Linked DNA regions of Homo sapiens. The protein of the gene in region 4 purifies or fractionates together with the protein of the main gene of each other region. This does not show direct contact. Each region holds a gene or a part of one and is shown on either strand. Other genes may lie near its edges.

Evidence for each region. The genes of interacting proteins can lie anywhere in the genome.
Region 1: the proteins of TMEM59 (region 4) and LRRN2 purify together in Homo sapiens (co-immunoprecipitation; one large-scale study listed by IntAct). This does not show direct contact.
Region 2: the proteins of TMEM59 (region 4) and GLT8D1 purify together in Homo sapiens (co-immunoprecipitation; 2 studies listed by BioGRID and IntAct, with this or other methods). This does not show direct contact.
Region 3: the proteins of TMEM59 (region 4) and ZDHHC9 purify together in Homo sapiens (co-immunoprecipitation; 2 studies listed by BioGRID and IntAct, with this or other methods). This does not show direct contact.

The regions. Positions count from the first base shown.
Region 1 is NC_000001.11:204,619,739-204,623,455, forward strand, and holds part of LRRN2 (leucine-rich repeat neuronal protein 2 precursor), read right to left. Parts: intron 2,385-3,717; exon of another isoform or gene 2,217-2,384; intron 2,102-2,216; exon of another isoform or gene 1,619-2,101; intron 1,476-1,618; exon of another isoform or gene 481-1,475; 5' UTR 255-480; coding exon 1-254.
Region 2 is NC_000003.12:52,695,792-52,699,508, forward strand, and holds part of GLT8D1 (glycosyltransferase 8 domain-containing protein 1), read right to left. Parts: intron 2,144-3,717; coding exon 1,930-2,143; intron 869-1,929; coding exon 751-868; intron 528-750; coding exon 443-527; intron 250-442; coding exon 137-249; intron 1-136.
Region 3 is NC_000023.11:129,833,887-129,837,603, reverse strand, and holds part of ZDHHC9 (palmitoyltransferase ZDHHC9), read left to right. Parts: intron 1-3,717. UniProt on the Homo sapiens protein: Palmitoyltransferase that catalyzes the addition of palmitate onto various protein substrates, such as ADRB2, GSDMD, HRAS, NRAS and CGAS. The ZDHHC9-GOLGA7 complex is a palmitoyltransferase specific for HRAS and NRAS.
Region 4 is NC_000001.11:54,039,705-54,043,204, forward strand, and holds part of TMEM59 (transmembrane protein 59 isoform 2 precursor), read right to left. Parts: intron 2,102-3,500; coding exon 2,020-2,101; intron 1,137-2,019; coding exon of another isoform or gene 1,134-1,136; coding exon 1,052-1,133; intron 1-1,051.

The DNA of each region.
Region 1 (3,717 bases), about 150 Mb from region 4:
TCCACACGGACAATGCTGTTGCTCTGCAGGAGCAGGGTCTGTGTGCCTGCGGGGAGTGCCGGGGGGACTGCCGTCAGGAATAGGTCATTGCAGTCCACAGTGGTAGCCTCGCGGTAGGACGAGCGGGGCGTATACCAGGGCCGGATCTGGCAGGCACACTGAGGGGGGCAGGGAACATGCCAGGGTACCACGGGCACAGCGGCAGTGGCACCAGCCACCCAAGCTAGCAAGAGTGGGGCCACGAGAAGCCTCATGGTGGAGCTGCAGGGCAGGGGACCATTCACAAGAAGAGTCTGGAGTCCTGCTCTTTGTGTTTTGCAGGGTAAGGGTCAGCAACCCTGCCAGGGCCCAAGGAACCACCCTCCCAGGGCAGTCATTCTACACCGGGCGTCACTTCTTGCCCTCCTCAATATGCCTTCTCTTCCTTGTCCTCTGGGGCTGGGCCTGCTCAGTCATTGCCAGGCCCCATCAGGGGCAGCCCTGGAAGAAGAGGATGCAGAGTTAAGGAGGTTGCAGAGAAGCAGTATCTACCCCTCCTCCCGTGTTTGTTTGTTTGAGACAGAGTCTCATTCTGTCACCCAGGCTGGAGTGCAGCGGTGCACTCAGCTGACTGCATCCTCCGCCTCCTGGATTCAAGCGATTCTCCTGGCTCAGCCACCTGAGTAGCTGGGATTACAGGCACCTGCCACCACTCCTGGCTAATTTTTGTATTTTTAGTAGAGATGGGGGTTTCTCCATGTTGGCCAGGCTGGTCTCGAACTCCTGACCTCAAGTGATCTGCTCACCTCGGTCTCCCAAAATGCTGGGATTACAGGTGTGAGTCACCGTGCCTGGCCCCTCCCATGTTTTTTGACTCAACAAGCCAAAGGAGCTGCAGAGGTAATGGCCAGGCCTGTCCTTAAGGCTTTAGTGTCCTTTTCTATGACCTGCTCACAGAGTGAGTGACTGTGAGTCTTCAGTGAAGGAGAGGAAGGTGTATGTGTGTGTATGTGTGTGTGTACATGCACATGTGTGTTTGGGAGGGAAGGAGAGTGGATGGGCTGAAATTATTGTTATCTTCAGAGTCCTTCTGAGCCCAGAGAGATGTGAGGTAGGTTCTCTAACCTTTCTTACCTCTTTCCTCCCAGCCTCCTTGGCTCACTGGGTAAATGGAAGATAAAATGATAAGTTTCCAGAAGTTCCTCTGGCAGTGTAGGTGGGAGGTGGGTGAGGGTTGGTGGAAATAAGTACAGCTTCTAAAATCTGGGATGGGCTCCCCAGGACCCTAGAGGTGAAAGGCAGCAGACCTGACACATCCAGGCAGGCTGGGGTGTTCTGCTGCCCAGGATCTTCTGGGTGGGGATATTGCTTTGGTGTTTGCCAACTTCCCCACCCTGGAGGCAGGAGTGTTTCTCCTTTCCCAACAGCCTGGCAGTGTTGCCCAGGAGGAGGCAGTGGAGTTAAGAAGCCTGGGTCTGAGCTCCTCAGCTGTGCAGGTAAGACCTTCTGTGACCTGGCCCGGCCCCTTCACCTGGCTTCTCTTGTCACCACCCCACTTACCCGCTGCACACAAACCTTTTGGGTTGAGGTTACCGTGACATGCCACCCCTTCTGATGTCTCCTCCTCATTGTCTTCCAGACAACTCCTACTTGTTCTTCAACGCTCAACTTTAAGTTCAGTCACCACCTGCAGAAGTCTTCTCCAAAACCTCCCCACCTGGCTGACTAAGGGGCTGGCTTTATGCTCTTGCAGTACTCATGCTTCCTACTGTCACAGTTCTGACCACACCGTGGGAAAACGTCTCTAACTAGAGACCTGTCTTGCCTCTTGTGCCTGTAGTACGGGATGGGTGCCCAGTGTGTGTTGATTGTATGAATCAATCTCTGTGACTCCAGAGTTCCTTTCTTCAGGAGATTAGACATCACCCCTGCAATCAACAATGCAAGCCACTGCTGTTTCCTCCATCCTGAGCATGAGGAACCTATCCAGTTTCTCTCTCAGATGCCAGGGCCATGAGGCAAGTCCAGCCTTGGCCTAGAACCAAAGATGGAAACAAAAAGGGGCCAGACTGTGTTGCCTTCTTGAGCCTGGTCTGACTCCTGAGTGGAAGTCTGATTCCAGGTAAGTTTTTAGCTACAAGTGTCAAGGAAATGCACAAACACTTACTGAGCACCTACCATTGCTCAGGACTCTTTGAAGACTCTGAATGTCTTTTTTCATATGACTCTCATAACAGGTACATGAGATAAGCACTAATACCTCCAGTTTGCAGATTAAGAGACTGAGGTCCTGAAGAGGTTAAAGAACTTGGCTCAAGTCACATAGCTGGTGAGCAGCAAGATACAAGAATCAACCCAAGTCCAGGGGGCTGTGTGCCGTTTACACTTCACATCTGTGCTGCCAGGTCTGTCTGATCTGACCCTGCCCTGGGCCTCTGGAGGGTCTGGGATGCACTGAATGCTGCAGCTGCAGGCCCTGTGCCTGTTCTCGTCCCCTGGGGTGATGACTCCTTACCAGGCAGCTGCAGAAAGCTTGGAGCTATGTCTCCTGCCACCATCCAGGCAGGTGCCTCTCAGCGGGCCAGAGGGGCTCTTCACCTCCCTCATCCTGCTTCCAGGATGCTAGGGCTTGGGAGGGGAGCAGCTGGAGGCAGGGTCCCGTTCCCTGAGCAGGAACACAGCAAGCCTATTTACATTTGGCTACTTCCCACTTTCCTCTGCAGCTATTTCTGAAGGTGGGAAAAACAACCGCGACTTCAAAGGCACAGAGGTTTTGATAGGGGTGTGTGTGCACCGACACGTAAAACTCAGTGTGAACAAACACATGTGTACACATGCATGCATGCCTGCATACCTGTGCAAGGGGAACCCAGCTACCCAAGCCAGTGTATGGGGGTCAGGAAGCAGGGAGGGAATTTTGTGGTGGTCTAGGTGGGTGGAAAGGAAGGAGGGAACAAGCTGAGTCTCCGAGAGGTCCCTGTTGTGGAACTGGATCTATGGCCAGTAATCCTGCCACACTTACATACCAGAGACCCCTGACTGCCACCTAGACCTGCTGTGAGAGAGCAGACCTACCGGCAAATAGATCAGGACCCAAATCGCGGCCCTACCACTCACTACCCAAGTACCTGAGGCAAAGCTACTTGACTGCTCTGAGCAACCATTTCCTTCTGTATTACATGAGATTGTCATTGGAGTTAAATGAGTGTGTTGCACACAGAAAGAACTGGACAAATGTTAGCTCTCTTCCAGCTCCAGTCATCCCTCAGGGTCAGGAGGTTCTCCAGCTATAGGACTTCTTAGGGGACAATAGAAGTTGGCTCCTAGGACTCCTAGGGCTCGATAAGTTAGCAAGTGCCATGCTAGTTGGGGAGGCAGGTTCAAAAACACGAAACAACTAGGAGAGCCCAAGACATTTCCCAAGTGGAGAGAAGGGTGAGGGCTGGAGGAGGTGGAGAGGGGTCTTCAGCTGGGCCCCAGCATCTCCCTGACCTTTAGACCCTACCCGAGTCCAGTTTCCCTTCTTCATCAACACTTGGTTCTAAGCGCTGAGTCCGTGCTCAACTGCACTGAGGGGATCAAGGAACCATTTAAAACTTCATTGAAACCCTCCAGGCACTTGCCTTTCCCCTTCACCCCAGACTGCTGCCCCTTCCTTCCCTCCCCTGGTTGGGCTGGGTGGATGAGGCAGAGGTCGTGGCTCCTGGGCCGGGAGCCTGGGGCTGGGCCTCGGGATCC
Region 2 (3,717 bases), on a different chromosome or scaffold from region 4:
TCTACAGAAAAGCAGGCTTGAGTTTTGGGATGAAATGATTGGGGAGTGTAAATTGCAGCAAAAGAGTTCCCTGAATTTGCAACCTCTTCCCATTAAACAATATTGTAGGAAGAGGGGTGTTTGGTAAGCAATTTACCTGGTTTCCTGCTCCACGGATGACAACTTTAGTAGAGGCTGAATCACAATCTTCTGAAAATGCAGCTGCATGTCCTGGCTTCAGTGCTGTATTGTAAAGGGCAAGAATATCACCTGAAATAGACAAGATGTTAAGATTTACATTTCCGTTGCCTTGAGAGTTCCCTGTTACTCCCACTTCTCCCTATGGTGACCTTTTATAGAAGACCATAAATAAACCACTACAGCCCACTGTAGCCCATTGTTTTATTTAGCAATTGTACCCAATCTGGGTGGAGAACAGCACTCATGGTGACATTTTTGATACCTTGCACAATTACATCATCATCCATGTATATGGCCTTCTTTGCGCTGGGAACCAGAATTGGCAAGTAGAACCTTGCAAAGGTTAACTGGAAAAGGAAAGAATAATTGGCATAGGATACCGCACTAGCTGTGCTTTTATTTACACAGAAACTCCTAGGATGCTTTCAGTACCCATTCAGGAGAAGAAAGGACTCTTAGAACCACCCAGGCTTGGTCCCCAGGAAACTACTTGCACTATACCCACAGATACCCAGGTATTCCATTATTTCCTAATACTGCCAAGTGCAAAGAAGGATGCATGGAACTCACAGGTTTCATGGATTCCCCCTGGTCAGGATCCTCCTTTACTTTTCCTTCCAAAAGTTTAGGGTCAAAATTGACAATTTTGTATCTGATGCTTTTCAGGGAATCACTGTTGAGCCAGGACCTGATGAAGATAAAACACTACATTTTAGTTTCAAATAATGTCTCCAAACCAATGAGGGAATAATGCAAAAGAAACCCTATGGACCAAATAGGTGTTTTCAAGCTCCTTTTATCTCTGAGCTTTGGTTTCCTCGTCTGAAGTGAGGGTAATTCCCACCAAAGTCCCTCCCTGAATTAAGATTGTATGGTAATTATCTTCTAACACTAAAACTACTCTAGAAAAACTATAGAATTAAGAACATTTCATCACCACCTGGACTATCCAACTCTTAACTGTGGTGACCCTAATTCCACCACTCAAGTCTGAGGCACTACCTGTAAGAAAAAACTGTTTGCTAAAGGAGTACTGCACATTTTTTCTAGGTCAGTTTCAAATCAGTGTTTTGTGGCTACTTAGTGTTATTTCTGTAGTCTATTTTTATACAGCTTCTGTTTCTGTATTTTAAATGCGTTCAGAATTTACAGCTTTAAAAACTAAATATGAACCATGCAGAGGGCCACAAGGACCAAAATGTTTCAGAAATTTGACAACTGGTTAATTTGTTAGACCAACAAATTTGGAGTAAGTTTTATAAGTCTTATTCATTTTCAAAATGGATTAGACTATCCAAGTTTCCCCAGATCACTCTGGGCCAGGATTTGGATCAGGATCTGTGATCAGCATCACAACACTACCTTGCCATTGTTGCTAAGTCCCTTCCCACTCTAGACCAGAACTGCTCCGAGCATGTCCATGAAATAAGGAACTTGTGACTTGTAAATCAACATTTACTGCTCCCTTCACTGAGAAAGTATTATTATCAAAACACCATCAGGTGGGGTTAACAGTTCAGAGTGACAGCTGACTTACTTCCTGGCATGAGCTCCTTGTATCACTTCTCCTATTATGGGGATATGCTCATAATACAGTCCTAAAAAAAATATGTCATTTGTACAGTTTATCACTGGTACAATTTCAATTGTATAAAACAACATACAAACCACAGAAAAACAGATCCTGGATTGGCAGCTGGCCTGCTCTAAATCATCCTCTAGAAGCAGAATCACATAAGCAGAGCTCACCGGAGATGGTCTGCTGTATTGTTGAGAGTAACAATGTAGAAAATCACATTGGAGCGAGTGTTGTGCTGAATGCTGTTTATAGCTGCAATGGCCCCCCCAAGCCTGTCTTCAGATGCAGCGATGACCACAGGAATCTCCTCTTGTCTCCCATCTACTGCATGTCGGAGAGCATTTGGGACAAAGTCTATAGGTTGAGGCCCTACAATTCCTGAATCTGAAAACACAAGGAAGGCACTGTGATTACAATCTCATGGGCTTTTGATATAGAGTCCAAGACATGGAAAAAGGGAAGGTAAGGATTATGGTACTGATCTACCTCATTCTCCCCCATTAAACTGAAGCATATAGCCCTGAAACTTTCCCTGTATGTAAATAAGCTTTTGGAAAAGTGGAGGAAGCATTTTTTAAAATACACTGACAGCACTTTGGTACACTACTGGTAGGAAAATAACAGAACCTGTTAGAATGTATTATGGCAATTTGTATCAAGAGTTTCCTAAGGACAAAATCTGAAATATAATCAAAAGAAAGAATTTTATTTAAATTGTGAAAACTTAGCAGCAAACTAAATCAATGTTTTTCAAGTCACGAATCACAAGTAGGCATGAAACCAATTGAGTGAGTCACAATCAATTTATACAGAAAAAGTTTCTGGATTGCAATAGAAAACTGAAATAGAGGCCGGGCATGGTAGGTCACGCCTGTAATCCCAGCACTTTGGGAGGCTGAGGCGGGTGGATCACTTGAGGTCAGGAATTTGAGACCAGCCTGACCAACATGGTGAAACCTCATCTCTACTAAAAATACAAAATGAGCCAGGTGTAGTGGTGAACACCTGTAATCCCAGCTACTTGGGAGACTGAGGCAGGAGAATCGCTTGAACTCGGGAGGTGGAGGTTGCAGTGAGCCAAGACTGTACCACTGCACTCCAGCCTGGGCAGCAATAGGAAAACTCCATCTCAAAAAAAAAAAAAGAAAACTGAATTAGAATACCAAAGAAAACATAGTGTATCACACAAGGAAACTGCAATTACTGTCCTGTATGCATTCTTGCCTTTCATTTTTTTTTTTTTATTCCTCATTGAACCCTGGTATTTACTATGTGCCAGGCAATATCTAGGCACTGGGGTTACAGCCATGAATAAAACATCCCTAACTTTCTGAGGATAGACAGCCAATAAGCAAATACACATGTATGTACATGTGCTACATGTAATGTATTTCCTATTGTAGGGCTGCCATCAAAAAGTCTGAAAGCTGTTGTAGCAAAAGATGTTATCCTGTGGAAACAAATTAATAGACATTAAGATTATGTATGAAGAGTTTCTACCATCACAGTGACATGATATACAGAAAAACATGTCATGTACAGTTTATATATAGTACAATCTCAACTGTACAGAAAAAAAGATGTGTAGGAAAAAACTGGAAGGTACTAAGCCAAAATTGTAAATGAAATCATTCAACCAACTAATATTTATTGAACAGCTAGTATCAGCCATCATCCATAGGCACAGAAGATAAAACAGTACACAAATTGCCTTCATGGAGCTTAAATACTGTTGTCTCTTTTTTTTTTTCTTGAGACGAAGACTCACTCTGTCACCAGGCTGGAGTGCAGTGGCGTGATCTTGGCTCACTGCAACCTCCGCCTCCTGGGTTCAAGCGATTCTCCTGCCTCAGCCTCCCGAGTAGCTGGGACTACAGGCGCATACCACCACGCCCAGCTAATTTTTGTATTTTTAGTAGAGACGGGGTTTCACCATGTTGGCCAGGCTGGTCTTGTAC
Region 3 (3,717 bases), on a different chromosome or scaffold from region 4:
TTTTGATGTATATATTGGCAGAAGAGTCATTGAATTGGATGAACTGAAAACAGCTTTGTAACACTGCTTAGTAATCAATAGTAATCAATACAAACAATACTTTTCTAGCCTATCCAAATTCTACCCCTCTTTCAAATTCTTTCTTGAGTCTTTCTTCATGAAAACTTTCCAGTAATTTCTGCATTCATTGGGCTAATTGTACACACCGCTCATTCAACAGATAATCACATGACATTTCTTATAGTTTGGAGCTATATGGTGATTACACTTCTCACTGTTGTTGTCCCCCGCAGCTAGTCTCTTTCAAGGTCAGAGACTATGTTCAATGGCTGTGTAGCCCCCACAGTGCTCTCTACCATGCCTTACATAGAGTAGATGGCCAATAAGTGTTGCTGAATTAAAACATTCTAGATGTACTTAAAATTTAACAATCTTGACCCACAGAATCATAGGATGGTAGATCTGGAAAGGGCTTTGGAGACTATCTCCCTCCTTGTGTGGGGTGAGGAAACCAGGCCCACAGAAGTGAGTTTCCTTTATCAAGATGAGTTGACCAGCCAACGTCTCTATACTGACTCAGGGCTTTTTCTTCTAATTTCGACATTTTATCTCATTGTTCATTGTTACCCTTTGGCTATGGAATCCTGAAGATATTCAAACACACATGCTTTAGTAAAGTGTACATAGTACCAAATACTAGGCCAGCATATTCCAGATTCTTGCGAGCTAGTGTGTGTGTTACCCAGTGGCATCTAGGCTCTTTGGGTCTCCCAAGCTTATGCTCCTAGAAAATGAAGGCATCTTTGCAGAGAACTGATGGTATTGCAGCATGGCATTTCTGGTAGCCTTGCAGGAACAGGGAAGCCTATCAGGAGCTTTGTGAGTTAACAAGGGATCATCACTGCTGTGGCCACTCCTGGTCCCTGCTGCCAAGATGAGGATGGCTTGGAGAAAAATCAAGCAATGTGTGCTCTGTACATTGTTACTTAGTGACTTATCCTGATGAAAGGGGCAGTGTGGGCTGGGCGCAGTGGCTCATGCCTGTAATCCCAGCACTTTGGGATGCTGAGGCAGGTGGATCACTTGAGGTCAGGAGTTCGAGACCAGCCGGGCCAACATGGTGAAACCCTGTCTCTACTAAAAGTACAAAAAGTCAGCTGGGCTTGGTGGTGCACACCTGTATTCCCAGCTACTTGGGAGGCTGAGGCAGGAGAATCACTTGAACTTGGGAGGCGGAGGTTGCAGTGAGCCGAGATTGTGCCATTGCACTCCAGCCTGGGCAACAAAACAAGAACAAAACTCCATCTAAATAAATAAATAAATAAATAAAATAGAAAAAAGAAAGAGGAGGTGTGTCTGGCAGACAGGTGAAATAGAAAAAGCAGACCTGATAATATGAACTTACTAGGTTTGAGGAGACACAAGACTATGTAGACCAAAGCCAAACTTTGACATACCAGAATGTTAGTGCCCACAGTGACAAGGTCCAGGTTCCTGAAGAGCATCCTTATGTGAGATTGGGAAGAGGAAAAAGTGACTATATTGTGCTCTGTAACCAAGAGTGCATTCTCTGGGGAATGACTCTATGGAGGTCAGTCTTGGCTTTATCTAGCTTCGGATTCTGTCTGTGACTTGACTAACCAAATGAGTTTTAGAAAGGCATAGTTGCCTCTTTGGTATCAATCTGTTACAGTACTTAGCTAAACTTAACTTCCTGATGAAGTATGTTCCTTGAGAGAGAGTTCTTCCCAAGAGTTCCTTGGGTTGTATCTCCTGAACAGTTTGCTTTCTTTTTCTTTTCTTTTTCTTTTTTTTTCTTTGAGACGGAGTTTCATTCTTGTTGCCCAGGCTGGAGTGCAATGGCACAATCTCGGCTCACTGCAACCTCCGCCTCCCGGGTTCAAGCGATTCTCCTGCCTCAGCCTCCTGAGTAGCTGGGATTACAGGCATGCGCCACCACGCCTTGCTAATTTTGTATTTTTTAGTAGAGACAGAGTTTCTCCGTGTTGGCCAGGCTGGTCTCGAACTCCTGACTTCAGGTGATCCGCCCGCCTCTGCCTCCCAAAGTGCTGGGATTACAGGCGTGAGCTACTGCACCTGGCGGCAGTTTGCTTTCTTTTAATAATTCTTTTTTTTCCTCTTTTTTTTTTTTTTTTTGAGATAGGGTCTCCCTCTCTTGCCTAGGCTGGAGTGCAGTGGTGTGATCTTGGCTCACTGCATCCTCTGCCTCCTGGGCTTAAACAGTCCTCCCACCTCAGCCTCCCAAGTATCTGGGACTACAGGAGTGAGCCACTATGCCTGACTAAGTTTTGTATTTTTTGTAGAGACAGGATCTCACCATCTTGCCCAGGCTGGTCTTGAACTCCTGAGCTCAAGTGATCCAACAGCCTTGGCCTCCCAAAGTGCTGGGATTACAGGTGTAAGCCACCATGCCTGGCTCCTTTAATAATTCTTTATGGTTCTGTCATTCAGAATTTCTCTACATTTTCAGCCTCTATTTCCTTTTGTGGTAATGAGTTTCACATTTTCAGTCTCCACTGAATGCCTCTCCCATCTTTTGAGGATGAGTCTTAATTAAATATAGTGATCCTCTGTTTTGGGAAAAGCAAGCCCAGAGAACAGGGATGTTCCCCAACATGCTGACATCAGTTGAGATGTTATTGAGGGAAAGAAGAGACTCCTAAATCTTTCTCCTCAGAGATGCTGGTGCTGGTATTGTGCTTAAGAACAAAGGAGGTACCTTAGGCTATTTGCAGTAGCAAGAAGCTAGCTAATTCAGGGTAATTAATTAGTGGGATGTTTCTGGAATGGAGTGGGGAAGACAGGGCCCCTATGATGATGATTAGATAAGGCCAGTTAATGGAGAGCCTTGGAATACTGACCTGTGGAGTTTGGGGCATAATATAATAGGCAGCAGTGAATGGTTCTAAGTTCTCGAGCAGGGGTATATTGTAACTGAAATTTGAACTTTGTTATTATAACTGAAATTTGGAAACTACTGAGCGGGTTTACCTGGATAGAGATTTTGATGAGAGGATGGCTTCTCACTTCAGAATTGAAAGTGTCCCTGTTTGGTTAATTTTCTTTATTGCTACTGGAGCAAAAGAGGGTTGTGCATTTTTCTCTGACCTTCACATAGAAGTAAATCTGGAGGCTGATTGTAAATTATGTTTTTAGTGTTAAGGGAAACTTCCCCTCTCAGCAGACTCTGAGGGTCATCAGAAGAATCTTGAAACAGTCTTAATGGGTGGTTCTACATGTTTATTGTCTTCTAGAGGTAGTGTCTTAGTCTGTTCTGGCTGCTGTAAGAAACTACCATCGACTGGGTGGCTTATAAACAACAGAAATTTGTGTCTCATAGTTCTGGAGGCTGGCAAGTACAAGATCAAGATGCCTGCAGGTTTGGTGACTGATGAAGGCCTGCTTTCTGGTTCATAGATGGCTGTCTTCTCTCCCTTGCCAAAGGGGCAAGGGAGCTTGCCAGGATTTCTTTTATAAGGATGCTAATCCCATTCATGAGGGTGGAGCCTTAGGTGACCTAATCACCCCCCAAAGGCCCCACCTCCAAAATCCATCACATTGGATGTTAAGATTTCAACATATGAATTTTGCAGGGATACAGACATTCAGTAAGTAGCAGGTAGGTAGTAAGAGGACAGATGGCCATCCATATCAGGGAGGTATTATAGCAAAGGCTTATTTCTCCCATGTGTGACC
Region 4 (3,500 bases):
CACTATAAAGCAGAAACTTGTTTACCACTCACTGAAATGCTTGACCTGGTATCTGACACCGAGTAGGTGATAGTCAATAAGTGGTATGGCCCACTATCTTTCTCTTTTTCCTTTTTTTGTTGGGGGTGGGGAGGAGTAAAATGTGGGGGAGGGACCATATCTGAACTCCTTGGAGAAGAGGAAACATGCACACTTTCATAAAACCTGCCTCTCACCCTCATAAGGCTTGATATTTTTTCCTAGGAGGGCATATGGTACCCCTACTCTCACTTGCCCACTTTACCATTACCCTTAAAAACTCTTGGCATAGAGCTGATATTCCTTAGTATAGAATACAAAGCCCTTCTTAATCTAGAGTCTTTATCCAGCTCTTCTAGCGTCAAATCTGGCCATGCAGATAAAAACAAAAACAAAAATCTGATCCCTAAACCATTCAAACATACTTATTTTATTTATTTTATTTTTTGAGACAGAGTCTCACTCTGTTACCTAGGCTGGAGTGCTGTGGCGTGATCTCAGCTCACTGCAACCTCTGCCTTCCAGGTTCAAACGATTCTCCTGCCTCATCCTCCTAAGTAGCTGGGATTACAGGCATGCACCACCACGCCCGGCTAATTTTTGTATTTTCAGTAGAGATGGGGTGTCGCCATGTTGGCCAGGCTGGTCTCGAACTCCTGACCTCAGGCGATCCACCCGCCTTGGCCTCCTAAAGTGCTGGGATTACAGGCATGAGCCACTGTGCCCGGCCTCAGACATATGTTAAATTAAAGCTTAATTTAAATGTGTGGAGAAGCACATTCAACATAAATCAAGAGATTCTAACAAGAAAAATGCTCTTGTACTGTGAAAAAAACTACCTGCCTGGGTTTTATTCAAGTAGTATGCCTACAACCTTTTAAACAAACTAAAATATCTAATGTACAACTTTGGAAAGGAACAAGTAAAAAGGTTTACTTTTGAGGTGCTAATTTTAAAATAATAAAAAGTAATATATCTCTCTGATACAAGCCAGATTTTATCTGTTATACACATAATAAAGAGGAATACATACAGAGAGAGGCATCTTAAAAAGCCATCACTTTCTCCATCTTCAAGAAAATTCCTGTGCGCTTGTGAATTTCTCATTTGCAGATCTGCTGAAATAGTAAGTATGAGTTTATTATATCCTATATTCCAAAAGCTAGTCTCACATGACTACTTCTAGATATATACACTTTACAGATATCCAATTGTTTTTGTTTGTGTCATCTGATACATTTTATAATGTGTACCAGTTTCTCTAGCACATCAAAACCAAATGAATATTCTATCACATTATGAGTTTCCTGTTTTATTTTCAAATTCTTATTGACATTGATGCTTTCTGCTTAATTACATGTGAGCTTGGATTTGGTTTATTCTAATCTAATTAAAGTTAAAGATGGTCTTATGTTATGTGCTATCATTATCTACCCACTCCCACCCACCAAAATAATTAGAAGGCTAATTAAATCAGTATCTAAAATAAGGTATGAGGAAATTTCACAAGGTGAGTTCTGCTTTAGCTTGATGTTTTATGTTCTTATAAGTCAAAATTCACTTCTAACATGGAAATAAAAATAGAATGGGGACTCTCACTTTTGGCATTTTTCATTATTTGATCAATTTATTGGGAAATACCAGAATATTTGATTAGTTCATGCTCAAAACATCCTTTGAAGCAAACTAAATGTTTTTAGAATAGTGATTTTCAAAGTGTGGCCCCCAGGCCAGCAGCATCAGCAAAATCTGGAACTTGTGAGAAATACAAATTCTCAGATCTTCTCCCAGACCTAGTAAATTAGAAACTCTGGAGGTAGGGCCCAGCAATCTGTGTTTGAACAAGCTCTCCAAACTGTAATACACATGAAAGTTTGAGAACCACTGTTTTAGAAATTATCTGTTTATGTTCCATCAGTGTAAAAACAAACATGACCAACTCTACTACAACCAGATTTGACTGCTAATGTTTTTATCTAAGCTACTTAAAATAAAACTTACAGGACATTTTGCTTAGAGATGATTCTCTCAAATTTGTAGGCTCCTGCTCCAAATGTGGTGCGTACTGGATTTCTGGCTTAGACTAAAATAATAATGAAAGCAATTAAGTCATTTGTACTTCTTTAGCTTTTTTCAGTAACAAGTTCTAAAACAAATCATCTCTTTAAACATTTAAATTGAGAAAAAGTAGCAGAAATACTGTATAAAAAATAAAACACATTAACCACAATATATTTTAATTGCACTTCCTAAACATCAGAGCCAGTGCCTTGCAAAGAAACAGATTTCTGGCAGATTTATGTTAGTTTAACTTCCTGACAACGTTTTGTTTTGTTTTTTTTTTTTTTTAAAGGGAGAGAGGGACAAATCATGACATACTACATTAAATACTATACCTTGCAGAAATGAGTTCTAATTCTAGTTGATCAGGAATAATTTATCAGACTGCCAAAACTTTTGGCTAAATACACATTATCTCTATTTATTCTCATATGAAACATTATATTCTTCCCTAAGTATGAGGAATCCATAAATTACAGCCAAACACTCCATACTTTTTACATCTTGTGTATAGTTCTGATCCTCTAGAATGGGGGTTTCTGCATCCCAGTTATGCTCAAATTCACACAGACTTTAGAGAGACACAGAGCTAATCTCCTATCTAATGAGGAATGAATGAGGGCTTCACTCTGAGAGTCAACTTATGCCTTGAGGTAAGTAGCTTTAGGACCTAGAACTTGTTCATGAATTTAAAGAGAAAATTCCTGTGTTTTACTTATTACCAAATTAAGTAGAGGGGACCCAAGGTTCAGGGGAGTGCTAAAAATCACATACCAGCCATACATTAAGCCACTTACTTAGCTACAGTACTTAAAAGGTTTACTTTATTACCTGAGAGGAAGACAGTGCCACAACATAAACTCTGTTGACTGGTAAATTTGAGGAATTCAACTACTGAATTAAAAGCATGGTAGGGTAGTATATGGGCCTTGGTGCTAAAGTGCCCTGGGTTTGAAGCTTAATTCTGTTACTTATTGGCCGTGAAACTGCAACAAGTTACTCTCACCTTCCTCATAATAAAACAGGAATAATACAACCTCATAAAGTTGTTTGAAGATGTGAGAGAATATATCTAGCACAATATAACCTCCAGGGAATAACAGTTATTATCATGTGGTAAACGATGAGATAGGAGACATTACTTCTCTAGGCAAAATACTTCTTCAACAAGTTCTCTTATTAGAGTCATGAGTAAAAGCACTGTAAAAAACTAAAAATTATGTCATATTGCTTTTATCTGATATCCATATGTAATCATATATGGCCACTATTTATGTTCGAAGTATATTAATTATTGTCTCTCATATTTAAAAATTTCATTTTATCAATTTAACCACCATAAAATTTAAAAGACTCAAGAGTTCTGGTTACATAAAAACTAATGGGCTTTAGATTAGGCTTCTAACGGGCAAAGGGAAGGG